Regions from separate parts of the Homo sapiens genome. Here regions 1, 2, 3, 4 and 5 are each reported to be linked to region 6. Evidence: microRNA targets listed by miRTarBase, many of them from high-throughput screens and not tested one by one. Region 6 holds a microRNA gene; each other region holds the end of a gene's coding sequence.

The links. The annotated mature microRNA hsa-miR-429 reads UAAUACUGUCUGGUAAAACCGU and lies in region 6 at 2,128-2,149, opposite strand. An mRNA with a match to its seed (bases 2 to 7 or 8) in the 3' UTR can be bound and repressed. Matches are read on the target gene's strand: a 7mer-m8 pairs with bases 2 to 8, a 7mer-A1 pairs with bases 2 to 7 and ends in A, and an 8mer does both.
Region 1: the mRNA of KLF11 is a reported target of hsa-miR-429. Seed matches in the 3' UTR shown: 7mer-m8 at 2,727-2,733.
Region 2: miRTarBase lists WNT16 as a target of hsa-miR-429. Seed matches in the 3' UTR shown: 7mer-m8 at 4,142-4,148 and 8mer at 3,068-3,075.
Region 3: the mRNA of PHF14 is a reported target of hsa-miR-429. The part of its 3' UTR that is shown has no 7-base or 8-base seed match.
Region 4: the mRNA of M6PR is a reported target of hsa-miR-429. Seed matches in the 3' UTR shown: 7mer-m8 at 3,687-3,693.
Region 5: the mRNA of CRLF3 is a reported target of hsa-miR-429. Seed matches in the 3' UTR shown: 7mer-m8 at 3,737-3,743.

What each region holds. Positions count from the first base shown.
Region 1 is chr2:10,051,610-10,056,683 of GRCh38, forward strand. KLF11 (KLF transcription factor 11) reads left to right here. Exons shown (of 4, transcript NM_003597.5): 4 at 618-3,227. The coding sequence ends at 898. It overlaps CYS1 (cystin 1), which reads right to left. Exons shown (of 3, transcript NM_001037160.3): 3 at 4,864-5,074. Among named protein-coding and RNA genes, the nearest start is that of KLF11, 11 kb to the left of the region's middle.
Region 2 is chr7:121,338,895-121,343,954 of GRCh38, reverse strand. It overlaps WNT16 (Wnt family member 16), which reads right to left. Exons shown (of 4, transcript NM_057168.2): 4 at 2,851-5,060. The coding sequence ends at 4,610. Among named protein-coding and RNA genes, the nearest start is that of WNT16, 12 kb to the right of the region's middle.
Region 3 is chr7:11,169,192-11,174,265 of GRCh38, forward strand. It overlaps PHF14 (PHD finger protein 14), which reads left to right. Exons shown (of 18, transcript NM_001007157.2): 18 at 225-427. The coding sequence ends at 299. Among named protein-coding and RNA genes, the nearest start is that of PHF14, 200 kb to the left of the region's middle.
Region 4 is chr12:8,937,245-8,942,314 of GRCh38, forward strand. M6PR (mannose-6-phosphate receptor, cation dependent) reads right to left here. Exons shown (of 7, transcript NM_002355.4): 7 at 3,117-4,696. The coding sequence ends at 4,574. It overlaps PHC1 (polyhomeotic homolog 1), which reads left to right. Exons shown (of 15, transcript NM_004426.3): 13 at 1-82; 14 at 585-816; 15 at 2,061-4,223. The coding sequence ends at 2,215. Among named protein-coding and RNA genes, the nearest start is that of M6PR, 9.9 kb to the right of the region's middle.
Region 5 is chr17:30,779,498-30,784,571 of GRCh38, forward strand. CRLF3 (cytokine receptor like factor 3) reads right to left here. Exons shown (of 8, transcript NM_015986.4): 8 at 3,187-4,946. The coding sequence ends at 4,690. It also overlaps the pseudogene SUZ12P1. Among named protein-coding and RNA genes, the nearest start is that of CRLF3, 43 kb to the right of the region's middle.
Region 6 is chr1:1,166,130-1,171,203 of GRCh38, reverse strand. MIR429 (microRNA 429) reads right to left here and starts at 2,199; the gene lies at 2,117-2,199. It overlaps MIR200BHG (MIR200B, MIR200A and MIR429 host gene), which reads right to left. Exons shown (of 2, transcript XR_007065348.1): 2 at 866-5,074. MIR200B (microRNA 200b) reads right to left here and starts at 4,100; the gene lies at 4,006-4,100. MIR200A (microRNA 200a) reads right to left here and starts at 3,341; the gene lies at 3,252-3,341. RefSeq lists an enhancer at 1-398.

The DNA.
Region 1 (5,074 bases), not on the chromosome of region 6:
CGGGTTCACACCATTCTCCTGCCTTAGCCTCCCAAGTAGCTGGGACTACAGGTGCCCGCCACCACACCCGGCTAGTTTTTTGTATTTTTAGTAGAGATGGGGTTTCACCGTGTTAGCCAGGATGGTCTCGGTCTTCTGACTTTGTGATCCGCCCGCCTCGGCCTCCCAAAGTGCTTGGATTACAGGCGTGAGCCACTGCGCCTGGCTGGATGCTACATTTTTAATTAATTTATTTTTGTTTTTTGGTAAAGATTGGGTTTTACTTTGTTGCCCAGGCTAGTCTGGAACTCCTGTGCTCAACTGATCGTCTCCAGCCTCCCAAAGTGCTGCGATTATAGGTTTGAGCCGCTGTACTTGTACTTCGCCTGATTTATTTTTAAATATATTTTGAAAGATTAGCTTGAAATCTTTGGGTGCTAACATAGCTGCATCTTAAGTGTGGGAGGAATAAATGCCTTTTGGAGGATTTCTTGACCCAAATCATCCAATTCCAGAGTAATAAGATACCACTTTCTTCTGAGTTTGATGAACACGATTTTAAAATGACATGAATTAACCCCTTGAATAAGGTGCTTAGCGTTTCCTTTCTCTTTAATATGTATTTTCTCACCTCACAGGGGAGAAGCCTTTCAACTGCAGCTGGGATGGCTGTGATAAAAAGTTTGCTCGTTCGGATGAGCTGTCACGCCACCGCAGAACTCACACAGGGGAGAAGAAGTTTGTGTGCCCGGTGTGTGACCGACGTTTCATGCGCAGTGACCACCTGACGAAGCATGCCCGGCGCCACATGACGACCAAGAAGATCCCAGGCTGGCAGGCAGAGGTTGGCAAGCTGAACAGAATCGCCTCTGCAGAGAGCCCGGGGAGCCCACTGGTGAGCATGCCAGCCTCTGCCTGAAAGGTCCATTAGGACATCACTCATGGGATTTTTAAAAAGCCTCTTTCCAGGAATGGAACTGATGGATTCCTCTCCCACTGCCTCACCCAAAAAAAACGGTCTTGGCGGCCTAGGGGAAGATCGGGGAGCTGGTTTTGATGAAAGTATGTTAACTTTTCTTTTCCACTTGGGACCCTGTTCAGTATCTTTTGTAGTTTCAGAAGTTTTTTTGTTTTGGTTTTTTTTTTAAAGAAATGGTAGAAAATTTGATAATCTGAATCACCAGCATTCAAACAAATATTTCGGCAATAAAGTTTACAAAATCTGGATTTTTACAACCTTTTCTATTGATGTTTTGTAGAAATAAGACAGGGTACTAATTTTTATACTGGTTTTTAGAAAAATATTTATATTGTTGGTGCTCAAATCACCAATTTCTAGCTAGATCATTTTGCAGCCTTCTTTTCAGTGTTTAATAACAAAGTTTTTCCTAATGGCCCTTCTTTTAGTAAACTGGACATGTTATTCCACTACAAAAACCACAAGTTATCTGGCCTTTTAGATCTTTTTGGAATCGGACCTGGTTGAGTAAGGACCTCTTAAAAGGGAAAAATAAATTTTGCCGTCAGCTTCTTCATAACGTTTTCAAGGAAATTCTAGGCAATCATTCCTGTCACCAAAGAACTAAAATTTTGGTTGACTGGAACTAGTGAGCTGTGTCCATGGTGTGTCATGAAGGATGTACCCCAGAGAGTAACATGAGCCACTGGGCAGATCCCAGGGACCAGTACTTGCTGCAGGATCTAGTCTGTAATAGTCTTGGCCATGGCTCTGCTGAAAGCAAGCCATTCAGTTTCTTGTTTGTACCTAAAACACCAAAAAAGAAACACTCAAATCCAGCTGCTTTGTCAATTGTCAGTTCTGACTCCTTTTGCTGTGGCCTTATCCGTACTATATTGTGGGTAGAGTAACTTCTCAGAAAAAAAGGAAATGTCTGTATTGGTTGGATGAAACTCCACCAGAGCACAGCTTAGCTGGGGCGAGATGCATGTGAAGGCAGGCAGTGCCAAGATTCCGCTTCCTTTGTTTGCCAAATACTAGAAACACAAGGAAATGCAAGTTACGCTAAATGGCAGTAATACTACCCAACTGCCTTTCTGTTCATTTTGTTTGAAGGAAATTGTTTTGACCAAACAGAAAATTACTTGGAATGGTGTGTTTTACAGTCTACCTAGAAAATAGATGGACAATATTTTTCAACTGTATGAGCACGTAGATAACCGAGAGAATGTGGCCACCTGTGTTCAAGAAGCCACTGATACTGGTTTTTGTTAAACATTGGAAGTTCAGGCAATGGAATAAATGTAGGAACATACAGAATGTTGCACTAATTTGGTAGCCTGGGAATTTTTTTTATTGTGCAGTATGTATTTAAATTTTGTCTATGTTAATTACCAGCATTTACCTTTATTTAAATGATGGTAAGGTGGAATATTGAATAAAATTAGGTTTTGTGTTTTGTTCTTTGTAGTCTGATAAAATCTCCACCTGGTCATTCATTGTGTGTGACTTGATACCTGTTAACTTGCCCCTTAGTATCAGCTGTTACTTGACACAAATGTGTGTGTTATTCAGAGGTTTTCAGTCTGGACACTCCATAGGTGAGTGTCGTGTCTTCGTGAGACAGCACAGTTGTCTCATGTTGTGCATAGTTCATGTTTCCTCACCACCCAGTCCTTTCTCCTGCTCATCAAAATCAGCATACACATTTTTGACTGTACACACTATAAATGGCATCAAATTTGGATATTTTTCTTAATTATGACATGCAAAGTAATGTGAGTCCTGCCAGTATTCTGGTGGATAAGGTCTTTTGAGTATTTGGTTGCTTGTCACAACATTCTCCAAGCAGTGATATTTCTAAAGAGGAGATACATGTTGAAAACGGTTTTAATTTACACTTCCATTTCCTGATTACATTTGGAAATACTTTGTGTAAACCATCCCCCTTCCACCTCCATTTGTCTGTTGAAAGATTTTAAGTTGGAAACAGTTCCTGTCTGAAAACTCTTCTGAGAACCACAAACCTTGTGTATGGATTCGGCATGGAGCCCTCAGCTGGCGGCTCTGGGTGCTGACGGCCGCTGGAGAGGTGGGCTCCCCTCGTGCACTTTATTGCCTGGGCAGTTTTGCTTGATCTTTTGTGACTTTGAGCCTTTTAAGTAGTTTGAATGATAAGACTTAAAATGTTTCATAATTATGTTTTATGTAACAGACTTTGACATTATTTAAACGAGCATGTGTAATGTAACTTTTCTCTTTGAATCATATAAAACTTGATTTTACATTGGATGTGTGTCCTGTGTCATTTAACTGTACCTGGTGGCCTAAGTATACCTAGAGACTTTTTGGAAGAATCTATAAAATTCATTGTGTATTGGCTCAAACTAAACTCTCCTCTTTGTTTTCTGGAGTTTTATTCTGTTTCTTTGGGTTCTTTGGAGGGTTCTTTCTGAAAAAAAATGTGTGAAGCGAGCTGAGTATGGTGGCTCACACCTCTAATCCCAGCACTTTGGGGAGTTGAGGCAGGAGGATTCCTTGAGCCCAGGAATTCGAGGCGGCTGTGAGCTATGATCATACCACTGCACCCTAGCCTGGGCAACAGAGCAAGACGCTGTCTCAAAAAGCCAACATGTGAAGTGGCCACTCTGGCAGTGGGTCTGGTCCAGACAGACCCAGTAGTGTGCCGGGTGACCCTGTGGCCGTCAGTGCTCGTGCCCTTCCTGTGCCAGGGGGTGGCTGCAAAGAGGTAGAATTGAAAGTGGTTTTCCAGCTACTCTGGAAGAAGTGCTTGGAAGTCTTCCATTATTTCCTTCCACCCCTGGCCCAGGATTGCAAAGTACATCATGGAGCCACAGGCTTCACTGTTCCTTCTTTTCCTTCCCAACTCTTAAAACTAAAGGCTGCCATATGTCCTCAGAAAACACAGCCCCTGCCCACCTCAGAAAGTCCGATTTGTCCCCAGGGGGTCCAGACCCTCACCACACAAAAGGTCTGATTACGGAGCCTCCTTCTAGAGGGAAGTATTAGAGCCGCAAGTGTGATTATCCCTCTCGTGGCAACTGACAAGACTTTTCTCCTGCCTCATTATTGCCAGAAAGGAAAAAGGAAAAAAAAAAAAAAAAAGCCACGGATTCTCTCTTCCGTGAGGTGCTTGGCTACACTTCGACAGCCTTATGCTCTCCCATGTGCTCACACGTGCACGAGCGTGCCCCACTGCTGGGAACAGAGAATGCTCTCACGGATCCACCAATCAATGTCAGCAGCAGGTGTCCAGGCAACGTGGGTGAGTGGGGACAAGTGGCCCTAGGTCTTTGGAACAGCAGAGGAAAGTGTCTTAGAAAGGGCTGTCTCAGGGAGGCGCAGGGAACCTGAGCCAACAGCAGCCGAGGGAGGAGGTCCCTTCCTGGGTGAGGCTAGGAGCCCACGGGCCGGTGAAGAGAGACTTGGGAACACACATGTCAGGAGGAGGGCAACAGCAGGACTCTGCTCCTTCCCTAAGAAAACACACCCAGCATTTCTCAGAGCCAGGGGTGGACAGTGTTTCCTCAGTTCCTGCGGCTTTGTAGCATCTTCGAGGAACTCTCATACTACAGAAACCAGAGACACATGGCCGGGTGTGGTGCCTCACGCCTGTATTCCCAACACTTTGGGAGGCAGAGGCGGGCGGATCACAAGGTCAGGAGTTCGAGACCAGCCTGGCCAATATGGTGAACCCTCCCGTCTCTACTAAAAATACAAAAAAATTAGCCAGGTGTGGTGGCGCATGCCTGTAATCCCAGCTACTCGGGAGGCTGAGGCAGGAGAATTGCTTGAACCTGGGAGGCGGAGGGTGCAGGGAGCTGAGATCGCGCCACTGCACTCCAGCCTGGGCAATAGAGTGAGACTCTGTCTCAAGAAAACTAAAAAAGAAACCGGGAGACACATTTGTGGTCACTTAAGATTTTTCCAGACAACAACGTGCGTCATTTTTGCCTTTGAGATGTGTTTCTTTCTGCCTCCATTCCAGCCACAGTCCCATCCTGGCAGTGAGCAAATCCCACACGCAGTTCTAGCAGGACGCTGAGGCTCAGCTGCAACATGGGGCAGCCAGGAAGATGCCTGAGGAGGTGCCAGGCACACAGGAGGCACTGGGAC
Region 2 (5,060 bases), not on the chromosome of region 6:
GTGTCTCAGTTTCCTCAGCTGTAAAACGAAAACTACAATAATGTACCTACTTTACGAGGTTGTTGTGAAGATTGAATTTTTATATGTATCTCTCTATATATTTTTTACTTAGACTAATACGGGTATATACTAAGTGCTATGGAGGTATTTGCTAATATTATTTATTCTTTCAAAGTAAATTAGTCCTTTCCTTGTGTATCACTGTGTCCCTTGTCATGCTGTGCCACGTGTCATCATCTTGCCCCCAAGAAATGTCATGATTTATCACATCTGGTCTATAGTAAAATTTAAATTAATTTCAAAAAGGAGACATCTTAGCCAACTTTCTTTAAGAAAGGCTTGTCTTGAGGAGTATTTGAGGTTTCTGAAGATAGGATTCAAATTTTTCTTCCCTCAAATCACCTAAGGTAATCAGTGTTCCAGATCACTTCCTGCCTCTAAATAGTGAGTCGAATTTCTCAATCTTTGATGACCTTTGGGAGGTGATGCAAAAAGGATGAGCAACTCACTAAATTGCCTAGAAATAAGTATTTTGATGAGACGCTTTTCTGTTTCTACTACGTATTTAAACTTAGTACAAATAAACTTAGTACAAATATTTAAACTAAGTACAAATATCATATTAGTACTAACAGTCCTGGAGAAAATTAAAATGTGTTTTAAAATACTTACTGTGCATATCACATAGTTTTAAAGCTGCCAAAACATAAGGTCACAGCATCTAATGTGTAAAATTAAAATTTTGTTGTTATTTTTAATATAATTATCATAGTCTCTTAAAATAGAAAACAAAATGACTATCATCCGAATTGTGAATAAAGAAATAATGCAGTTGTTTATACTAAAAAGAATTAACATGTTGTTAATGTTGTGTAAAGTACCATTATCAGGAAAATGCCTTAATTATTCAACTTCCTAATCCAGATGTTACAGATAATATCATTTAATATGTTTTTCTTGACTTTGTTTCAGGATGAATCATTGCCTCTTACCATTGCCTTTATTAGGCAGTTCCAAATTTACAAAGAATTTGAACTCCTAAATTGAAAAATAATCCACTGGAGCACCTCCCTTCGCCCTTTAACATTATGCAAGGTATTTAAACAAATCAAAGCACTTTGAACCCACATTCATAATCCACAGTGCTTAGGGCTTGCTTTGTCTGTTGTGAGCTCCATGTAATATCAAAAGCTGTTTCCTAAACAGCTCACTAGAACTAAGGCATATAATGTCTTTGCTGCCCAGCGTCCAGGTACTCCTTACCAGTAACATAACACCCTGGTTTTCCTTTAGGGAAACCACCCCCGTCTCTGTTCTCACGCTGTGTAATTTTAGTTCCAGGGAATCCCACTTCCACTTCCAGGGTCATGATGGCCTTAAGATGGTTCAATGTACCTATGGCTCACCCAAAACTCCCAATGGTCATGGTGATTTTTTCAGAGAGAGGCACATTTAATCAATTAGAACCACTGAGACTCAGAAGACCTTTGCTGAATCCTCTGAGAAAGAAAAGGTTTTCTTTCCATCTGTGTGAGCAAACCAGGAGAGAACCTCTCTTTCTTGAGGATGGGACCCCTCTTTCCTTAGAATGAGTGGCAGGTAGGAGAATGTGAGGTCTGGAAGCATGGCAGCCATGTTGCTAAGAAAAGTAGAGATCCCAGAGATGCTAGGGGTGGGAGACTTTGAAAGAGGTTAGGACACAGCACTGCATGAACCCTGAAGTAGAAGACTTGGCCAGTAGCCAGCCTAAAGTAATAGAGAGACCTGAGCCCAGGGAACATGGTGTGAGCTTGTGGATCAAGCTTCCCCTGAACCAGTCACAAGTTTGAAGTTTTTAGTTACTGAGTCAACATATTTAATGTTTAAATCAGTCTGGGTTGAGTTTTCCATTACTTGCAACATAAGGGGCCCTAATGAATGCAGGCAATGTGGTTTAGACTAGATAGGAGCCTTTGGGTCCCAGAATTGTGTTCCCAGGAGCACCATGGTGCTTCCTCTACCATGACTGGGAGTGGGATGGAAATGGGCTAAGGGCAGGCTGTCAGCCAATAAGAGAGATAGATAGGTGATGGCCAGGCGCGGTAGCTCACACCTGTAATCCCAACACTTTGGGAGGCCGAGGTGGGTGGATCACTTGAGGTCAAGAGTTTGAGACCAGCCTGGCCAACATGGTGAAACTCCGTCTCTACCAAAAATACAAAAATTAGCTAGTCATGGTGGCACATGCCTGTAATCCCAGCTACTTGGGAGGCTGAAGCGGGAGAATCATTTGAACCCAGAAGGCAGATGTTGCAGTGAGCCGAGATCGGGTCACTGCACTCCAGCCTGGGCAACAGAGTGAGACTGTCTTAAAAAAAAAAAAAAAAAGTGAGAAACTTAAGGATGGCTTCCATGGTGATACCAAAGGTGAGAAGAAAAGAAGAACCCAAAGACACAGGTTTGGAGTTAGGAGGAGTTTTTGCTTAGGCATCCCAGAGAGAGGTGCCTGAGTTAGCATCACTGTTTTAAAGGAATGGCTGAACAGTAATCAAGTCTTTGTAAATTAGAGGCTGCCTGATTCTCACAGTCAGTTGATAAGGTAATTATGAAAGGTTTTCTAATTAATAGAAGAAATTGGTTGTTAATAGACACTACAGTCTTTCTGTTTTTTAAAAATGGGTGATTATGTTCAAAGAAGACAAAATAGATTTACTTTGAAAAAAATAGGCAGGAGAGAGTGTATATTTTCAGATTATTCTGTTCAAGGGATGCTAAAGACTGGAAAACCACTTTTAAATATGCACTATATTCATATATTTGCCATTTCTGTGTCTCTCATTTAGTAAATAATAACTTTGTCAAACTTTACAATCACAGTTAAATGCTTAGTCTTGATTTTAATATTAGATCTGAGACATTTTCCATGGGTTTGCTCTTTTTCAAAAATTGTTTCTCTGCCTCAGTGAATAAAATTAAAGAGAAATAGAATGAAGACTGTGGGGCAGGGAAACATTTCTTTATCTTATTAATAAGAAAATGAATATTCTCTTTGTCCATTCTGAATTTTAAAAATCTATTTTTTTCTATATAATACTGAAATATTTAACAATTCATAAAAAACATAAGCATTTACATTAAAATACATCCTTAAATAGAGCCCTGTAATTTTTACCAGGAACCTTGTAAAATATGATGAATATACATGCATGAATATTAAAAACAAGAAAGACCACTTAACATTCAAATAGAAATGCAGCATTACATAAAATATAATAAATATCCAGGATATCAAATCCACAAATTGATCACTATTCTGATTTAGATTCTTTTTTCCAGTTAAGACTTTTACTAATATAATTTATTATAATAACCTTATGAGTTAAGCATAACTAATGTGAAAAGAGAATTCAATTAATCTTACTGCTGAAATAACACAAATTTTTGATATTTTGCAACATATTTTAATCTATAACATATAAAACTGTCATTTTAGCAAGAAATACACATCCATATAACTAACTGCTAAGTTAAATTCTCTTCGATGTCCAAAAAAATAGCATTAATAGTATGAAAAAAAATAAGCTAATATTATTTATGAGATAATTTTACTGCCTTAGCTCTTAGGCTTTGTCAATAAATGTTTTAATATAAATCATATAACTTAAGTACTGTATTTACAAAATAGAAACTTTTTAAACAAAATTCTTTACAAAACACTGTCTTTACACATTTAAAGGGTGCTTTTCTTTACAATGTATGAAATTATATTTTTACCTCCACTGTTTACCTCTCCTTTTCCCGCATGTTTCAGGATCCTCCCCCCAGTATCTCAGAGGTGGGTTTTTAACAGTTGAAACTGATCTGTGATAAAAGTATGAATCTAAAGATCAAAGATTGCTATATACCTTATGGAGGTTTTTCCAGATTCTCCCAGTGAAAAGGCACTTAAAATCTAAATCATTCATTATACTTTTTACATATTGATTCTTTGTCACTAAACATCTGTAATGATCATTTTTTTAGGGATATTATATCACTTAAGAAGATTCTTTTTGATTACCTTTCTTTGGAAGTACATGAAAGGGTAAGTCAGCACCCAATGCTTATGTTAACTTTTCAACATCTTCTATCCACACACAAACAGTATAATTTCTTCAGTTAAAATACTGAGAGAATAAATGAGATTCATGTTAATGTCTCCTTATTGCTATAAGAGGTGTCTTTTAAAAATGACTAATGTTCACCCACCATTATTGAGTCCTGTAACTAAGTTCCATATTCAAGGATCTTATCCTGAGTATGGCAGGCCTCCTGGCATAAGGGATCTTTCCTGTTATTTCTTGCTTAGGAAACAGATTATCTTCCTTGTATGTCAATATATATTCCCCAAATCATCAAAAGGTGAATATAAACCTTTTCAACATTAGAATCCCAAGAAATCCACATGATTGATGGGTTGATCAGATAAAGGAAAATATGTCGATCAGGTAAGGGAAACTCTCAGGTCCAAGGTTCTAGGGATTCCACTGCAAGAGTCAACTTTACTAGCGCTGCACAGGGATGGGCACCTCTCTGGTTGCAATGCCATTGTATATTGCTGAGGCATCTTGCCCAAGGCTGGATGGAGTGGTTACTTGCAAGTGTGGACATCAGTCATGCTTTCACACCTCCTGCAACGGACATAGCAGCACCAGATGAACTTACACTCACACCTCTCCACGTGCCTGACCACATGGGTGTTGTAACCTCGGCCACAGCAGAGGAGGTTGCAGCCATCTGCACCCTCTGATGTACGGTTGCATTCTCTGCCTTGTGTCCCTGGGATTCCCAGTTTCTTATCTTCTACACAGTAGTTGGGAGACTTATTAACATAGAGCAGATCATCCTTATGGATTGGTATTTTCCTCTGATCTTTTTCTCTCCTGCGCATTTTCCTCTTTGTTTTGTCTGATATCTGGATACTGTTTTCATATTTATCCTTCAACAAATGGCCAATCTTTTCAAAAGAAGACATGGTTTTCCAGCATGTTTTCACAGCACAGGAGCCGGAAACTCCGTGGCAGCGGCAGTCTACTGACATC
Region 3 (5,074 bases), not on the chromosome of region 6:
TGTTAAAATTGGTTGCTTTTAAAAACATACAGAAAATTTTAATGTGTTCTATAAAACAGCACCTATTGCAAATATTTAAATGTTACATAATTTTACCATTTGTGTTTAGGATTATTAGAATCACAGTAGTTCATAGTTCTACAGATGCAGTTAAAATCTGTCAAGTATAGCTGATAAATGCTCTAAAGTTTATATTTTAATGTTTTCTAAAATTTATTTCACAGGAAGATGAAAATGAAGCTGAAAGAAAAAATATATCTCAGGAGCTCAACATGGAACAGAAAAATCCAAAGAAATAAAAGATTTTCTGTAGTGTTTTTGAAAAGTTTGCAGCTTATGTAATAGCAGATAAAATTTCTAATTGTAAAATGTTAAATTGTAAAATCTAATTTGCAAAATGTTCTCAATAAAGTCATTCAAAATGAAATAGGAGCTTGTATTTGGAATTCGTATATTTTAGAGTAATTTCGACTTTTTTATTCAAAAGCTGGACCTTTAAAAGTTTTTAAAAGGAGAAAAATTCTTAACTCAAATTTGAGAACAGAGACAGAATGTTATTTTTTTTGTAACCTAACTGTTAACACATTTAAATGACCTAAAAAAAAAACCTCTGAAAGTCTTTTTTCTTCTTACTAGACTCTGTGTTCTTCTTTAAGGGCCTTAACATAATTTTGATTATCAATATAAAGAAAAACCAACATAGTTCAAAAATGAACAGGGAATGCTTGCACATGAAAATGGTTAAAACCAGTCAATGCCACAAGGAGAAATACTGTTTCCTGATTTCATCTATTTATATATTACACGATACTCTAGGACTGCAGGGAAAGACTAAAAAGAAATGATAATTTGACGGTCTCTGGCAGAAGTAATGCCATGATTTATAATTTATAAAACATTTACTAAGGACCTGCTGTGTGCAAGGTCCCACACACTATTCCTGGACATTTCAAGAATAGTTCTTTTATGTATTTCTTTGGCTTAGAAATTTTTCAAAATTCACCTGTCCCCTGTCTTTATCAGAGTTCTCAGTAACCAGCCTCTTTACTCTCCCCGGTTCTAATTTCCAAGCTGCCATTTGCCAATGACAGGAAGAGCAATGAATCTGCTTGCTATTTGCAGAGCCAAGTGTTTTTGGCAGATGTCTTTGTTTGATTATTTAAGGCAGAGTTTCTTAAAATGAGAGGCAGAGCTTTGGGAGGCTTGCAAGAGAATGTGAGAGTGGAATCAGTGTATTTGCCTTGAAGCCATATTATATGCATTCAACAAGCCCAATAAATGTGTGACAGCAGGATACGCTGGCAGCTATGATACATTGGGCTGAGATGGAGGAAACTGCAAGTAGTTAAGACAGAAAAATCAAAAGGATAGTCTCAAATAATCTCAGTACGCATGTCAGGAAAACAACTAGAGCCCACAGATGGGATCCCTGGACTAATGAATTCCCTGGATGAATTTTGGAGCAAAGACTTTAAGCCAAAGAAAAGGTTGAGATGGCAGTTCAGAGTCTGCAGGGAGCCTTTGCAATAGGCAAATATAAAAATTAATTTGACACTTTTCCCACATCAATTTATTTCAAAATACCCACATTCACATAGATTTGGGTCATATCAGTAGTTTTACTTTTAAAAAGAAGAAATAATACATGATTCACATAAAAGCTAACATGTTACAGGTACTATGCTAAATGTTTAACGTGTCATGCCACTTAATTATCAACTTACAGGTTAGGTACTGTTGCTTTTACCATTTTACCAAAGATCAATCCAAGGCTTAGACAGGGGAAATAGATTAACAAAGGTTATGTAACTTGTAATTGGCAGAGTAAGAGTTCAGACTCAAGAGTGTTACCACAGAATATGACACTTAATCATTGTGTAATACTAATACCATATGTCATTTGTTCCACTGTCTTTCCTAAAAATGTACAGTCTTATTAGCACTTCATTCATCACCTGCTTCCTCTTTAGTTATTTCTCTTCTCCAATCTCTTAGTTGCGCTTTAGTTTATTTTGAAGACTTTGATTTAAGTAAAATAAGTGAAAGCATTGTAACCACTATTCTGTGTGCTCCGTAACATGCTAATCCTGCTTTATGTTTTTTTTTTTAACACCAAGTTATCATGGAACAAGGATGGAAGCACCTATTTCTTCTCTAAGATTTTTCAAGAAATTTTTGGCCATATTTTTCAGCAGATTGTTCAGTTATTAGTATGCTGTTATCTCATCATTTCACACTTGCATTTATGAAATGAAACTGTTAGTGTGAGTCACAGTGACACTTAGCCACCTTGCAGGCATTTTAAATATTAAATTTAAATGGTATCTTTGATCATTTAAAACCCAGTTTTCCTTTTCAGAAAGTTTTTCGAAAATATATACCCCTTGGTTTAGGATGGTCAGTAATAAAGTAAAATCAATTTACATTTCCTTTAGGAAAAATTTCTGTATGAATCACTCAGATTTTTAGGGCTCATACCATTATGTTGTGTATATACACATATAAGTCTTAGAATGCTACAAGATTATGTGACTGTGATTAAGCCAGTCGCTTTATTTGAGTCAAATGTTTCATATTTTATATAGAATGTTTTACATATTAATCGGCTCAGGCTGCCATAACAAAATATCTGAGTGGGTGGCTTAAACAACAGAAAATTTTTTTCTCACAGTTCTGGAAGGTGGAAGTTCCAGATCAAAATCCAGCAGGGTTCAGTTTCTGTTGAGGACTGTCTTCTGGCTTGCAGATGGCCTGCATCCTACACGGCCTTTCCTTTGTGCACGCACAGAGAGAGGGAGGAAGTGAGTGAGCCTCTGGCATCTTCCTGTAGGGACATTAATCCTATCAGATCAGGATTATGATCTCTTAACCTTAATTCCATCCTTACTGCAAATACAGCTACCCTGGGAGTTAGGGCTTCAACACAGGAATTTCGATGGGGTGGGGGAGGAGGGACACATTCAGTTCATAATACATTTAAATAAAGTCCAAGTACCTCTGTTATAATAATTCTGAGCTATGTTAAGGAGCACTGGAGCAAAATCCCAATGAAATGTCTATGGCAATATAGATTAGATGTATTTAGGGAGAGTCCTTATAAACGTTGATAACTGGGATATCTATCTATAAGTCGATTTCTAAAGAAGACAAACCACTAAAAAAAAAAGGAGCTGTTTTGTTTACCTCTTTATCCCTATTACCTAGCTCATTTTTTGGCCTATACTAGGTGTAACACTGTGACTGTAAGTCAGCCTGTAACTTGCACTGTAGAATACCCTAAGAACAAGAATTTTATGATACCTGTATAATTTTTACTTACTGAACCGAACTATCTTCTCTTCATGCTAGTTATTTGAGTTGTATTTCTTCATACCTTCCAAGAATTTAAAAATAAAAGAACTTTAAATGAGTATTTGTTTCTATCATATTTAGGAAAAGCATGGTTTTTTAAATTGTATCCAGTATCATACTCTTTCCTCCAGTCTAGGGAACAAATAGCAGAAGCGGGAAGGGATATTATGCTACTCTTGAATGGAAATTGCTGGGCACTAAGATGCTCAAGTTTTTTAAATCATTCAACAAAGCTTTAGTAGGACCTACTATAAGATATACTGTTCTGCTTATCACTGGGGATTCAATGACAGACAAGCTTACTGTGCTGTTACGGTCTTGAAATTCTTAGCTTTTGAAAAAGAGACCCCATGGTTTTATTTTTCACTGACCTCACAGATTACGTAGTAGATACCACTAATGTTTATACTCTTTAAGTCAATTTTATTGGAGTATATTTTACATAAAATTCACTCATGTTGTATGTGCAATTCAGTAAGTTTCAACAAATACATATATTCATGTAACCACCTCTCCAAGATATAAAGCATTTCCATCACCCGAAAAGCTTCTGTCCTTCAGTTTTGCAATCATTTACACACCCCCACTATAGCCACCGATCTACTTTCTTTATTTGTTTTCCCTTTTCTAAGACTTTATACAAATGGAATTATATCACACACATCTTTTGTGTGTGGCTTTCTTCACTCAGCATAAAGTTTTGACATTCATCCAAGTTATTGCATGACTTCATTTCTTCTTATTGCTGAGTACTTTTCATTGTGTGAATATACTACAATTATACTGTGTGAATACTACTACAATGGAATATATACAGATGGCCAAAAAACACATGAAAATATACTCAACATCATTAGTTATCAGGAAAATGCAAATTAAAACCACAATGAGTTACCACTGTATACCCGCTGAAATGTCTATAGCTCTGTTATCAGCTATATAAACAGCAGCTATTAAAAATGTGTAGCTATTGAATACTTGAAATATGACTAGTCCCAATTGAGATGTGTTGTAAACATATAAATCAGATTTTGGAGCTAGAGTGCAAAAAAAAATCCATAATTTTTACTCTGATTACATGTTGAAATGATAATATTTTGAATAGATTTGATTAAAATTTTAAAATAAATTTCAACTATTCTTTTTAAATTGTGGCTACTAGAAAATTTGAATTTATATATTATAGTTTCCATTGTTTTCCCACTGGACGGGCCTCCTGGGCTATAATTTGAAGGCCGATAATGAAATGTTGGTAAGGTTATGAAGCAACTGGAACTCGTCATACATTGTTGGTAGAAGTGTAAAATGATACATTATTTTGGCAAAGAGTTTGGAAATTTCTTATGAAGTTAAACATACCCTTAATATACGACCCAGTAATTCCACTAATAGATATTACAAAAAGAAATGAAAGCATGTGCCCTCACAAAGATTTGTACATGAATTTTTTTTAAGATCTTGCTATGTTGCCCAGGCTGGATTTCAACTCCTGATCCTCCTACCTTGGCCTCCCAAAATGCTGAGAGTACAGGCGTGAGCCACTGTACTCAGCCTTGTACATGAATAACTTTTTATTATTTTTTTTTTTTTGAGACGGAGTCTCGCTCTGTCGCCCAGGCCGGACTGCGGACTGCAGTGGCGCAATCTCGGCTCACTGCAAGCTCCGCTTCCTGGGTTCACACCATTCTCCTGCCTCAGCCTCCCGAGTAGCTGGGACTACAGG
Region 4 (5,070 bases), not on the chromosome of region 6:
CTATGCTCGCGTTCGCAGGCGTGGACCCCGCCGCAGCTCCTCTGACATTGCCCGTGCCAAGATTCAGGGCAAGTGCCACCGGGTGAGCTGCTTGTTGTAGAGCCAGATGCCTTTAAACTGGGTCTTTTTTTCTTTCCCTGCAGGGCAATTCATTTGCCCAGGTAAGAGGGTGTGAGATGAGAACTCTGGTTTCACATTGATTGCATTACTACAAATTCCAAGAGATCCTGACCCCCTTTGTCTCCGGACCTCTTACCCAACTACTGGTTCATGTTTCCATTAATCCTTACACTGTACTTGAGTACAATTGTTAATTGTACTCAATTGTACTCAATTTCTCTCAATTGTACTTGAGAGAAAATCTAGATCAATTGTTAGGTCATGGGGAGAATCAAGGAAGTGATACAGTTTCTATTTGAAAGACTTTGAGAGTAGATTTTGGGAATTTGCAAATAAAGTGCTGCTTATTTCACATATGATAAGATGAGTTTTTCTTCTACGCCCAACCCAGGGTGGTTTGGGAAGAAAGAGAGAGGAATAAACCTTTGACACTGACCTCATTGGTTTGCTCTTTTCCCCTATAGGGTCAAGAAGACTCTAGCCGGGGTTCAGATAATTCCAGTTATGATGAAGCACTCTCTCCAACATCTCCTGGGCCTTTATCAGTAAGAGCTGGGCATGGAGAACGTGACCTGGGGAATCCCAATACAGCTCCACCTACACCGGAATTACATGGCATCAACCCTGTGTTCCTGTCCAGTAATCCCAGCCGTTGGAGTGTAGAGGAGGTGTACGAGTTTATTGCTTCTCTCCAAGGTACTGACCCTCTCTTCAACAGAACCCAGGTTGTTTTCCTTAACATCATCCCACAGGGGCCTTGATAAGAGGGAAAGTAATTGACTTTTAAGCAGTAGGAGCTTGAATGCTAATATAGAGGCTCTACTCCTAATATTCAAGTTGACTTCCTAATTTTTTTCTGGGTTGACATTATCTTCTGTAATGTCAGCAATTTTACAGTGTTTGATTCTCATCTTATGATGTAGCTGCATTTCTCACTAAATTTTTGGATAAAATGTTTTTGTGTAATTAACTATGATACCTCCCATGGGGAAAAAATTTTTTTTTTCAGTGGAGCAGGGTATTAGAAACTAAGTGGCCATTGTTGCCCCACTCTTCAAAGAGGGCTTGTTTGCTAGTCTTCTTTTTTTTTTTTTTTAAACAGAGACAGGGATTCCCTATGTTGCCCAGGCTGGTCTTGGAGTCCTGGGCTCAAGAGATCCTTCTGCCTTGGCTTCCCAAAGTGCTGGGATTATAGGTGTGAGCCACTGCACTCAGCCTATATGCAATTTTGACAAAGAGTTTTTTTCGGAAATGAAAATCACCCTACCCTTCTTGCTATTTGTCTGAATTCTGGGCCCTTAAACAAAAATATCACAAAGAATCTTTTTGCCAGTATAAAAGAAAACATGCTTTTATTTCTGTTCTCTCCCTTTCCCCTGTCTCTAAGCTATTTGAATGAAGTTATTTCTGTGGTTGAACAATTTAGTTGCTTTTCCTTTCTTGGTCTTGGACTTTGGTTTTGTTGTTGTTGTTGTTTTGAGACAGAGTCTTACTCTGTTGCCCAGGCTGGAGTGCTGTGGCATGAATTTTGGCACACTGCAACCTCCGCATCCTGGGCTCAAATGATCCTCCTGCCTCAGCTTCCCGAGTAGCTGGGACTATAGGCATGCATCACCATGCCCAGCTGATTTTTGTATGTTTTGTAGAGTCAAGGTTTTGCCATGTTGCCCAGGATGGTCTTGAACTCCTGAGCTCAAGTGATCTGCCTGCCCTGGTCTCCTAAAATGCTGGGATTATAGGCGTGAGCCTCTGCACCTGGCCATTTTTTAAATACCAGTTGCTTTCTAATTTCATTTTGCTTTTAAAGCTTGCCATCTGACTTCATATTACTGAATTTAGGACAGGTACTTTGGAATTAATCATTGCTAGACCTCAGTTTCATTTAGCTTCCCTTCTCCTATCATCTGGCATTACCTACATGTTCTCACCATTTCTTCTAGGCTGCCAAGAGATTGCAGAGGAATTTCGCTCACAGGAGATTGATGGACAGGCCCTTTTATTACTTAAAGAAGAACATCTTATGAGTGCCATGAACATCAAGCTGGGCCCTGCCCTCAAGATCTGCGCCAAGATAAATGTCCTCAAGGAGACCTAAGGTGGCCCTCTTGCACAAACCAGCCTAAGGCAGACACTCTCCACTGTCCAGGTTATAACCTGGTACCAGCAGACTTTGCAGGGAAGAAAGAGTTGTTCCAATCATGTAACCTTCTGTAGGGGATTACTGAGACAGGGAAGAGAAGTGCAAGAATTGGTTGCTGGTGCTACATGGCGGCAGCTTTGACATTTTCTCTGGGTTCTACTTTATTTTTTAAAATCTTTACAGTTCTCACCATTTCACGTACCTTAATCCAATCTTTATAAAAGAGGCAGTCTAGAGAACTAGGACTGCTCAGCCTTATCCTGGAGTGGAGCATTTAGCCCAGGTCTTAATTCTCCAAGAGGAGGAATACATAGTATGGTAAGGCAAGGAACTGGGTGGAATGTCAGGTTGCCTGCCCAATGGGAGAGGTAGGGTTTTTCTAGCTTGTGTGACAGAAGTAGCAAAATCTGGTCCTCCCCCCTCCCAGTGTAGCTGTGGCTCAGAGTTTTTTCTTTTTGTTGTCACTTACTCCCTTGTGATTGAATTTTTTCTCCTGCATCCATGGCAGGATCCCCAGCCAGTATAGAGACTTGGTTGGCATCTTCTGCTGCAGGGACTAAAAGTATTTGACTGGGGCACATGTGGCTGTTGTCATTCTTTCTGCATCCCACTGTTCCCCTCCAATTTATGTTATTTTCTACCCTGTTTTTCAGTTCCATCTCTGCTCTGTCCTATAGCTTTATAAAACCAGAGTGTGTGGGGCTGAGGTCAGGAGTATAAGTACCTGCCTTAGGCACTATTCCTTATATAACAAAAATATTAAATATTTTTTTCCTCAGTAAAAGGATGAAAATTGGTTTCAGTTGTCTTACTCTATTCCAGTCTTTGCCCACTTTCACACAAATGACAAGGCCAATATGTTTTGTTTGTTTTTTAATCATTAAGAGTTTTTGTACAAAAGGTGATGGTTTTTTTTCTTCATTTTAAAACACCAGGGTGTGGGGGAGGGATGCAAACAAATAACAAAAAAGATGCTTTTGTAACATTATTTTCCCTGTTTAGAAAGAAAAAAATCACTCCAATAGTATTGAAAAGTCCAAAGATGAAATAGTTTCATTTTCTTTTCCTAAGGCTTATAAAAGGCCCCCTGCCTGTTGATTCCATCCCTCTTTTGTGTCCAGTGGAGCCATGTTACTCTTCAGTGGCCCAGGGGTTCACTATTAAAGAAAGATCAGTCCAGGTTTCTGGGCACATGGCCTAAACAGGAAGATGGAAGCATCAGAGGATTAAAAACCTTTCCCCACAGAAATGTGGGCAAGAAGACACTTCCCTGAGCCAGCAGAAGGGACAGGTGCAGCAGCATTCCACACCCAGCGCAGAGGACAGCAGAGCCCTCGATGTCCCACTTCTGCTTCCGTTCCCTTTCTAGAAGATTGAAAAAAAGGTCAAAACCACATGCCTGTGGAGAAAGTGCGACATGTTTAGAAATACTGGTAGGGAACCAGGAGTAAGAAAAGCTTTACCAGCTTTTACTACAAATGGATGAAAGACATCAGGATCCCACCACCGCAAGGTAAAGTGACTTCCCTTTTCTGGAACCCCTGTGGCACAGGAGTACCAATTTTCCTTTCCAACGAACTGGATTTCTGGATAGGCATTTTGGCTGTATGTGGACAGATAAGACCACAGTCCTTAGCCCAATCCCAGCTATACAGTCACCCCAATTTCCACAAATGATGTGATGGTACCGTATAATCCTGTAATTGGGAAATTTCACATTTTTCCTGTCCTAATCTCAGAGGTGGGAGAAGCAAGTCTAGAACATCTCCAGGCTCAGACTAAACGAGAGTACTTGGACTGCAACCAAGTAATCACTGCAAAGTAGTTCCAAGCAGCAAGAAATACCAGATTCTCATGGAGGCTACTATAGGGTACAGAATAACAACATGAAAGCAATCAACCCTGTATAAATAATGTTTCTTGGCATTTTTTTTTTAATTAAAGAAATCCAGTGTCTCAAAAACTTGTGAAAATGTGTTTAAAAAACAAACGGCCAGTGAGCCTGCTACACCATTTTGCCCATATGCCTATTGTAACTTCTGATGTCAAGAGACAATGCAAAAGCCTCTGTTTTCACAGGCCCTATTATATTAACTCTGACTTACAACTGTACCTCTCTAGAGAAAAAACAGAAAATAAGGAACAAAGGGAAGGCAGTTTTACTAGTGAGAAGATGCAAATCAAAAGCAAACTGGAAAGCAAGAGCAATAGTAAGGGTGAGATGAGGGACTGGAGTTGAGACTGCTTGAGAAATCTGGCTGTGTAGCTTTGGTTTGGGGGACTGAGGAAGAGGCTGGACATATAAAGTGCAATCTACATTGGTAATAAATGGTCATCCCTTTCTTCTGACTCCTCCCCCAGCTGGTCATCCCCCACACCACGATATGCTGCAGGCACATTTCGAGGTTTAGAACGGCAGACAAAGTCACAGCCATCCTGTAGGGGGAAAAAAAAGAAGGAAATAATTCGCAGCATCTAACTTTAGGATATGAGAAAGTGTACTTATGGTCTAGGAATGTGGCAAGAATTGGTTTTCTATAGGGATAATGAGAAAACCTAAAAGATCTGACAATCAGCCTAAATTCAATTTGGGGCAACAGGAGAAAAAGTTTCTTCTTATTAGGCCTCACCTTCTTCCCACCCAGGCCCTCTTAAAAGCTAAATCAGATTTAGAAGAGCCCATCTGGTCAACAGTGTTGCTCTTTCAGCAATGTCTTACCAAGGCCAGAAATGGATGCTGTGCCACTTACTACTCTGTACTAGGGCAACTGTCTTGTTTGCTGGGACTTTTGTGGTTTTAGCACTCAATG
Region 5 (5,074 bases), not on the chromosome of region 6:
CCGGCCTATCTGGAAGCTCTTAACCCTGTAAAATGGGCATCCTTTTAAGTCAGAGCATATAGATTTACTTCTTTTTAAACGTTCTGAGTTTTTTTGTTTTGTTTTGTTTTTTTGGGTTCCTTAATTGACTAAACCAGTGCTGGTCTAATAGATAAGTGGGTTATTTGATTTTTTAAAATCTTGTCAAAAATGTTAATAGTGATTATACTTGAACCTGTATCAAGTATTTTATAAGATAAATTCCTGTGGAGTGCTGTGTCCAAACTAGTCTCTGAACACACTTTTACTACATTCTAGTCTAAATAGTTTTTTGAGATGGAGTCTTGCTCTGTCGCCAGGCTGGAGTGCAGTGGTGCAATTTCGGCTCACTGCAACCTCTGCCTTTCAAGTTCAAGCAATTCTCCTGCCTCAGCCTCCTGAGTAGCTGGGATTACAGGCGCCTGCCACCACGCCCGGCTAATTTTTTTGTATTTTTAGTAGAGACGGGGTTTCACCGTGTTAGCCAGGATGGTCTCCATCTCCTGACCTCGTAATCTGCCGGCCTCGGCCTCCCAAAGTGCTGGGATTACATGCGTGAGCCACTGTGCCTGGCCATTTATTTTTACAGCGAACTACATTTGCCACTGTACTCCAGCTCGCTGTAGCCTCAAGCTCCTGAACTCAAGTGATCCTCCCACCTTAGCCTCCTGAGTAGCTGGCTAATGCCTGACTATGCCTGGCTAATTAAAAAAAATTTATTTTGGTAGAGATGGGGGTCTCATCATGTTGCCCAGGTTGGTCTTCAACTCCTGGCTTCAAGCAATCCTCCCACCTTGGCCTCCCAAAGTACTGGGATTACAGGTGTGAGCCAGCAGTCCCGGCCAAACTTGCTAATTTTAATTTGTGTCTTTTTGCTTTACTAAATAGTAACCATGAGTGTTCTGAGCTTTTCTGAGTTCTGTGAGTCCTGGCAAATAATTGAAAGTGAAAGTGATCTTAAGCACCCCTGAACACATTTACCACGCATGGCCCACTTGCATTCATCTGGTATTGGAGGGAAACAAATTTCTAGAGTTTCAGTTGCTACTTTTCAGTTGTTCCATGGTGCTTTCCAGGAGTTCCAGTCGATGATATGGGGTTTCGCCTGTCATCACATCTGTCAGGCTTTGCGCCTTCTTCATCCTGCACAGACACTGAGATCATGCAGGTCTTGTATCTGTTTGTAGTTCGTCTTCACTAGCTTGTATTTTGGGATTTGAGGGGGTAAGTGGTCACCTAGTCTTACTGTAGATATTATCCAGGGGATTTTGCTTTTGTTATCTATCTAGTTGCTCTATTTCTTTGTTTTGTTTGTGTTTATTTATTAAGAGATGGGGTCTACCAATGTTGCCTAGGCTCACTGCAACCTCGAATTCCCAGGCTCAAGCAATTCTCCCACCTCAGTCTCCTGAGTAGCTTTGGAACTACTGGTGGGCACCACAACACCTGGCTAAATTTTTTTTTTTTTTTTTTTTTTTTTTGAGACAGAGTCTTGCTCTGTTGTCCTGGCTGGAGTGCAGTGCCAAGATCTTGGCTGACTGCAGCCTCCACCCCCCGAGTTCAAGCAATTCTCCTGCCTCAGCCTCCCATGTGGCTGGGACTACCAGCGTGCGCCACCACATCCAGCTAATTTTTGTAATTTTAGTAGAGACAGGGTTTCACCATATTGGTCAGCCTGGTCTCGAACTCCCGACTTCAGGTGATCCACCAGCCTAGGCCTCCCAAAGTGCTGGGATTACAGGTGTGAGCCACCACACCCAGCCAAATTTTTTTTTTAAGTGAATAAAAAATGGCTAGGCATAAGCCACCATGCCCAGCCAAAAAATCAATTCTTGTGATCATATCATCACACAAACTCTTCCCTCCTAGCACATAGGTTTGGAGTACTAGGTTCCCTTACTTACTTGAACAGAATGATTTTTTTTTTTTTTTTTTTTTTTTTTTTTGAGACAAAGTTTTGCTTTTGTTGCCCAGGCTGGACTGTAATCATGTGATCTCAGCTCACTGTAACCTCTACCTCCCGGAGGGTTCAAGTGATTCTCCTGCCTCAGCTTCCTGTGTAGCTGGGATTATAGGCATCTACCACCATGCCCAGCTAATTTTTGCATTTTTAGTTGAGACGGGGTTTCACCATGTTGGCCAGGCTGGTCTCAAAACTCCTGATCTCAGGTGATCCACCTGCCTTGGCTTCCCAAAGTGCTGGGATTACAGGCGTGAGCCATCACGCCCAGCTAATGAGTTCATTTTTTTAAAAAAAATCTTCACAGTTCAAGAAAAAAAGTCAGTATTTAAATTAGTTTCAAGGACAGACACAGTGGCTCACGGCTGTAATCCCAGCACTTTGGGAGGCCAAGGTGGGAGGATCACTTGAGGCCAGGAGTTCAAGATCAGCCTGGCCAACATGGCAAAACCCCATCTCCACTAAAAGTATAAAAATTAGCCAGGTGTGGTGGTGCACACCTGTAATCCCAGCTACTTGGGAGACTGAGGCAGGGAAATCCGTTTAACCCAGGAGACAGAGGTTGCAGTGAGCCAAGATTGCACCACTGCACTCCAGCCTGGGTAACAAAGTGAGATTCTGTCTCAAAAAAAATTAGTTTCAGAGTTCCAAATATTACCACTCCTGTCTCAAATTAGGTTTAAGGCACTCCTGTGAACAGGCAGATTCTATAGGTATAAATTAAGATGTCATTTCCCTAGAGAGGCTAAGAAATAAATACATTCAACAAATATTTGATGAATTAAAGGAATGAGATGAAGATATCTGGAGAAAACGACTCATTCGATCCACCATTCATTCTGCACACATTGTGTCAGGCAAGATGCTCAGTATCAGACACAGAATATAGGAAAGTACAAGTAACCAGCTGGGTGTGGTCACTCATGCCTATAATCCCAGCACTTTGGAAGGCCAAGGCTGGGGAGGACTGCTTGAGGCCAGGAGTTTGAGACCAGTCTGGACAACACAGCAAGACCCTCATTCTCTACAAAAAATATTTTTAAAAAAGTTTTTAAAAGAAAGTACAAGAAGGTACACATACCCTTTCACAAGTCACAGTGATATCTTACTAAAATGCCTGGAGCCACAAGAAGCCTGTTTTCCCTTCAAATGAAAAGTAGGTTAAAACTGGATTCACCAAATCTCACAGAAGAAAAAAGTACACACACTGAACTTTTTTAGTTTTTTATTTTGATTCCTATGGCTGGACAAGGTATCTACATTCTAGAACATCTTCTTAATCCCTAAACAAGTGGAAATCTACTACTTATATATAAAAAGACAAGTAGAAAAGGTCATGATTGTCTAACAGGGAACATGAATCCCCAAATAAATTATCTTACAAAAATATCATACTTGCTTTTCTACTTTTTTACTATACTGGTAAAAATGAAATGAAAAAAATAATTCACATTAAAATAAAATCTGTAGGGTGGCATAGAAGACAATTATTTTTACATATTAAAGTCCTTCAAATAAATATTTTACACACAAATTTAAGTAAGTTTTTAAAAAAAATAAGTATTTACGCTATATTTTTTTGCTCTGCTAAAAAGAGACCACTTATTAAACTGACATTAAACTGGACTGCAGCTCATTCTCTGCAAAGAGTAAAATGCATGTCACAGGCAGATTGGATACACACGTGCATATTACATACATATGAAATGGCTAACACTGCTGTGCATACTACTGCCATAACTAGTTTTACCCTGTAAAAATACTGTAGCCTATACTGTATCAAATTGCAATGAAAGAACAAAAGGTACTACTTGCCTATTTTAGACACTTGGTCAAGCATTTAAAAAAATACAAAAATTGGTCCACTGCAGTGGCTCACACCTGTAATCCTAGCACTTTGGAAGGCTGAGGTGGGTGGAACACCTGAGGTCAGGAGTTCAAGACCAGCCTGGCCAACATGGTGAAACCCTGTCTCTACTAAAAATACAAAAATTAGCCAGGTGTGGTGGCCGACGCCTGTAATCCCAGCTACTCAGGAGCCTGAGGCAGGAGGATCGCTTGAACGTGGGAGGCAGAGGTTGCAGTGAACTGAGATCACACCACTGCACTCCAGCCTGAGTGACAAGAGTGAGACTCCGTCTCAACAAAAAAAGAAAAAGTTATAATGTTTTGGGGACTTAAAGATTACTGAAGAGGGGATAAAAGTCAACACTGCTTACAAATACCTGAACATGGAGAGCACAGTCAACACATTCATGTGGACAGCACATGAACGGATGTATTAATACATTACACAGCTTCTTCTATCTGACCTATTCCTCTTGTTCTAAAGAGTTACATGGACTTGGATCCTTTAAGATGATTTTAAAAATAATATTACATTAAGTTTTCCTGGTCTAATAACCAACTTTGAGAAGTACAGTGGAAGGGTATAGAACTTCCTATATCTTCTATACTTTTAATGCCAATTTGATTTTTATTGTGATGTGATATTTAACAGTATGCTAAAAATAAAATTGACTGAATTGTATGATTTTGTCCACAACATTGAAGTCTCTTTTTGCTAAAATATTACAAAATGAATCCAGTAAACACTTTCCAATGGCCTAAGTTAGAGATGAATTCAACTTTTTTTTTAAAGCAATTACAACTACGCTGGGCTGAGGACAGCTACGTTAGACCCTGAAAACCAAAGCCAAGCACCCAAACATCTAAAACACTAACACTTTCCATCCAGGATAGAAAAATGAGCATCCAAAGTAAAGAGAACCACAAGACTGATCAAGTAACCAGTCAAAAACCACTTCTCTATTATTTGAACTTATAGTTACTCGAAGCTTGAAGTGTCCACCTTCATTATTACTGGTGGTTCCTAGAGTCACGGCTTCAATGTCAAACGTGACAGTGGACCCAGAAGTAACTGCGGGTAACTGATTTGTCATTTCTTTTCCATTGACAAAAACTGCACCTAAAATGTTAAGGTAAAGAGTCATTTACATGTGAGCAATAACTAAGAGATCTGAAATAGTTTCTAGATTACTGGTAACACAGCTCATTTCCTAATTCAGATTTTAAAAAATCTGGAATGCCAACTGG
Region 6 (5,074 bases):
CCCACACAGGCCTGAGGACTCCCCACCGCCCTCAGAAGCCCCCAGGCTCCCCAGCCAGGCACTACCTCGTCCCTCACAGCTTTCCTGAGTTCAAACTTGAAAACTCTGCCCCTTAATCCCAAAATCTGGGTGGTGTGGCAGCCACGGATACCTGTAGCCCCAGCAAGGTTCCTGCGCAGGGCAGGTGGGAGCAGGACCTTGGGCCGTGGGTGTGCCCGGCCCGCGTGTCCAGGTGGGTGCAGCCCCCAGGGCCAGGCAGAATGGGGGAGGCCTGGCACCTCTCGGGCAGTGGGTGGGGTCTCCAGGCAGGCCAGGCCCTGCCACTGGAAGGGAGGTGGCCCCTTTGCCACCAACCTGTGGCTGTCACCGGGGCAGGTGTGGCTGGACCAGGAAGCCCTCCTGGCTGGCGCCTGGCTGCCTCCATCCTGTCCGCAGCCCTCGCTCCTGCTGGCCGGCACCATACGCTCTTGGTCACCTGCTCAGAGAGGCCCCCCAGGGCCACCGGCTGCCCCCTCGGTAGCTCCCTTCAGCACAGGCTGAGGTGTCTCCACTCAGGGACTCCCCCTTCCCCCAGAACCTTGACCTGAGCTGACCACAGGAGAGTCAGGGAAGATTCCTGAGCAAAAGAAGGAGGGAGGGAGGGACGGAGAGAGGAGGAGGAGGGAGGAGGGGGAAGGAGGGATGGAGGAGAGGAAGGAGGAGGGGGAGGGAAAGAGGAGGGAAGGGAGGGAGGGAGCCTCTCCCAGGAACCTTGGGGGCCTCCGGGGCCGGATGCAGTGTCTGGGGTTCTGTCCTCAGCTGGGCCCTTTGCACGGCGGGGGTCTGTGCACGTGTGGTTAAAATAAGGAGCTGGTCCAAGCATGGGTGCGTGAACTGCAGACTTTATTACTATACAAAGACTTTTTTCTGTTTTGTTCCCGGTGCTTATGGAGAGGAGGAGGAGGAGGAGAAACCGCACAGGGAGGCTCTGGGTACGGCCCCGCCAGCCCCAGCAGGGTCCTTCCTGTCACACCCCGTGCAACGCAGCAGGCGCTGTGGAGAGTGAGCCCCACTGCAGTGTGGGGCGCAACTTCATCCGAGGGGTGCTTGGAGGGACTGGCCAGACGGGCACAGCGGTGAGGAGGTGCTGGGATGGGGAAGGTCCCCGAGCTCCGGGCGGTGTTGGATGAGCTCAGGCTCACAGGTGTGGCCCTGCCTGGCCCGAGCTCTCCAGGTGTGTCCAAACCTTGTGTTATATGCACCTTGCAGTCCAGGGCTCACCCGTGCGGTCTGGTGAGGTGGACGCCACATTCTGGGGGTGGCACTCCAAGTTCTTCCCCACACACGTCGCTCAGGCGGCAGCAGCATGGGGGTGGTTTCAGCTGGCCCTGCGGGGGACTGCCCCATCTCCCCAGGGAGGAAAGAGGGTCTGGAGATAGCCCCGGGTGGGGGAGGTCAACCTGCAGATCCCGGCTTGGGGACAGCTCCAGATGACACCTCGTGAGCCGCCTGGGGTGGAGGGGCCCCCAGTGCAGGGCTGCGTGGCCCCAAGCACCTGCCTTCCCTATCCCATGGTCTTGCAGCTGGGCACCGGCCCCGCCCGCCTCAGCCCCAGAGATGGGCCCTGGAGGGAGAGTGTGGTCTGCATCCCACGGCTGGCCCCTGGAGGAGGAGGGCCAGGGCTGGCCCCGGGAACCTCCCAGAGGTCTCTGCGTCCTGCTGCCTGGCCGCTGAGACGCTGTGACATTGTCCCTGCTGGGCATTTGTGCTCCTCCGTGCCCTGGGCTCAGGCACTTTGGGGGGCCCAGCTGCTTCTGTCTCAGCCTCCCCAGGTGGCGAGGGGGCTGGGGCTGTGGGGTGGGGCTCCGGGTATCTGTGACTGTGACCCCAGGGGCCAGGCTGATAGCACGGGGTCCACAGCATCTGCCCGGGGACTACAGCTCGAGGGCCCCAGGAGGCCGGGTGGGCACAGGCCATGGCGAGGGTGGGGCACAAGAGCCCCAGACCCCGGCGGCTTTGCACTGATGGGCTGCGGATGGGCACAGGCCATAGTGAGGGGGGCATGAGAGCCCCAGACCGGGCGGCTTTGCACTGATGAGCTGCAGGGCAGGCAGCTCTCTCCTCTAACGGTGATCAGGCAGCGGATGGACGGTTTTACCAGACAGTATTAGACAGAGGGCCAGGTCTAACCATGTCTGGTAAGACGCCCATCGGCCGGCGGTGGTGTGGGTGGCCTCCGGGTCCTGGGCTGGTGTCTGCGGGGCCTGTGAAGGGAAGGCCCCGGGGGCGGCTCCTGCCACCTCCTGCAGCTGCCCTGATCCCTCCTGGGTCTGCAGAACGAGCCCCCGAGGCACTTCCCTGACAGCCCCCATCCCAGCACCTGGTCCCAGCCCAGCCTGGCTGTGTGGGGGTACCCGGGAGCCACCTGGTCACCCAGGCCCTGCTCTTGGCAAAGGTTCCCTGCAGCCCCTCGCTGGCTTCCTGAAGCTCGGTCGGGTTAATGAGTAACAGTGAAGGGCAGCCTCTCCCCGGTGGCTGCCCCCTCCCCAGGCTGGGGCCTTGTGTGGGGGTGCGGTCCCAGGCGCCCTGGTTGCAGATGGAAAAGATGAAACAATGGGTCATCCTGGCCTGGTGGGTTTTGGACAAAGTTCCTGTTCTTGTTGACTGGGGGAAGGAATGAGACCCCTTGTCCCTCAGAGGGCAAGCGCAGAGCGTCCCCGCTCCCCTGCATGGTGGGGCTCGGGAATCTGAACCCACCTTGTCCTTCCTGCGCCCCCAGCAGACCCTCCACGGAGCCCGGACCACGTGAGAGAGGCCACTGTTGCTCTTCCCTCTCCAGCCCTGGCATCCCAGCCCTATGGCCTTTCCTGGAGCCAGGTCACCCTAAAACCCAGCCTGGGAGGTTGGGTGGGGGAGGCACAGCGGCTCCGGGAGGGGGAGCAGGATGCCCTCCAGGCCACCTGTGGAGGCACCAAGGGGTCCTCAAGGTGTCAGACCCAGCCTGGGCGTGAGTGACCCCGGGGGCACCCCCGGCAGAGGCCGGCCCCTCCCCTGGGGGCTGGACTTCGGAGCTGACACAGGCCCTCTGCCGCCCGCTCAGCCCTCCGCCCTCACCCGTCTGCTGGCCCCGCTCGGCCCTCCGCCCTCACCCGTCTGCTGGCCCCGCTCGGCCCTCCGCCCTCACCCGTCTGCTGGCCCCGCTCGGCCCTCCGCCCCAGCCCATCCCTGGAGTAGGAGCTCCGGATGTGCCTCGGTGGTGTCCCCGGCGAGCGGCGGGTCACCTTTGAACATCGTTACCAGACAGTGTTAGAGTCAAGCTGGGAAATCCAGCACTGTCCGGTAAGATGCTCACAGGGGCCCGGGAGGGACGTGGGGTCCCGCCAGGCAGGCAGGGGCTGCTGTGGAAGCCCAGGGAAGAACCGGAGCGGTGAGCAGCCAGGGGTGGTGCCGGGACCGGACAGGGCTGGCGGAGAGGGGCTTGGGGGCCCTGAGACTGCACACAGGCCCACCCTCCCTGCTTCCTCCAGGGCAAGGGGACCCTGGGGCTGCTGACCCGGGACCAAGGCGGGGGCACTGGTCTGCTCGGTGGCCGGCCCACCCTGTCCGGCAGGAGGGAAGATGGCTGTGGCCAAGCTGGGTGGGGCGGCTTCCTCTGGGTTCCACGTGGCTCCCGGTTGGGCCTTGCCCTCCTGAGCCCTCTGTTGGGTCCTGCTCGGCCCGCACCTGCTGGGTGTGACAGCAGCTCCCGCCCAGGCGCTGTGGGCAGGGCCCGGACACCTGAGCGTCCTAATCCCCAGATCACTGTGGGGCGCCCTGGGTGCAGCTGCAGGAGGCCTTGCATTCCGGGGTCTCTGAGATGCTGGTGGGGGGCGCCCCAGCCCCCTTCCGAAGGTCACGTCCCCCCGTCACTCTCCCCAGAGCCATCTGGCCCGGACGGGGTGGGGTCCGGTGAGCGGGCTGTGTGGGAGGGGAGTGTGGGGCTCGGCGGGAGGCCCTGGGGGCCGGGACGGGGTCGGCCGGTCGCTGCGTGCAGGGCTCCGCCGTCATCATTACCAGGCAGTATTAGAGACCTGACTCCATCCAATGCTGCCCAGTAAGATGGCCACGGCTGCCCGAGCTGGGTCCGGGGGCCGCCCGGCTGAGGGTTGCATGGGACTCGCTGGGAAGCTCAGTAGCTGGGGGGCCTCGTCCTCCTGGGGCACTGAGGACAGCATCGCCGGAGGGCAGGGGCCCGGGTGAGCCCCACCCGCCAGCCCTGCCGAGTCCAGCAGCCACCAGCTTTGGGTCCTGGGGTGGGCACCTGGGGGGCCGAAGTGTCCTGGCCAGACGGCCGAGGACTAGGTCGGAGTGGGGCTGACACGGGCCCTCTGCCCGCCCCGCTCGGCCCTCTGCCCCCACCCCTCTGCGGGGGACCTTCCCTCTGGGTGGTCCCATAGGAAGGCCTGGACAGCAGCCCCAGCCCCCCGGGCCCCACGTGCTGCCTTGTCTGAGGCAGGGGACAAGGGCCTCTGTCTCCAGGATGGTGTTCCAGGAGCTGCTTCCCTGCCCAGCCCCTTCTCTTCTCAAAGGCCCGGTGTCTGCGAGGCTCTCGAGACAGAACGGTCCCCGCCACCTGGAGACCCCTCTCCCATGCTGCCCCGCTCACTGCACAGCGTCTGAGGGCAGGGGGTGCAGGCGGGGGTGGGGGTGGGGGTGTGGGTGGGGGTGCGGGCGGGGCAGGCTCCTGACCCTGCCCAGCCGTCCCTGCGGTTTGTGTGTCTGCTGGTCTGGGGTCTGACCCAGGCACAGAGGCAGACCGGCCACAAACACAGACACAGGCAGTCAAGCCTCAGACGCCGCGAGGGCTGAGCCGCCTCTGCAGGGGGGCAGGAGGAAGTGGGCAGCCCTGTGGCCCCTCCTTGCTCAGGGCCCTGCCTGGAGCCCAGAGACCCTAGGCTTCTACTCCAGGCACACTCAGGACCCGAGGGAGGTTCAGCCCTCAGGCCAGACCAAGGCTCCCCGCCCGCTGGACACGCCGTCCTTCCTGTCCTCCTTCCCACCCTTTCTCTGCAACCACCTGGTGCCAACTGGGCCCAGAGAGCTGGCCAGAGCCACT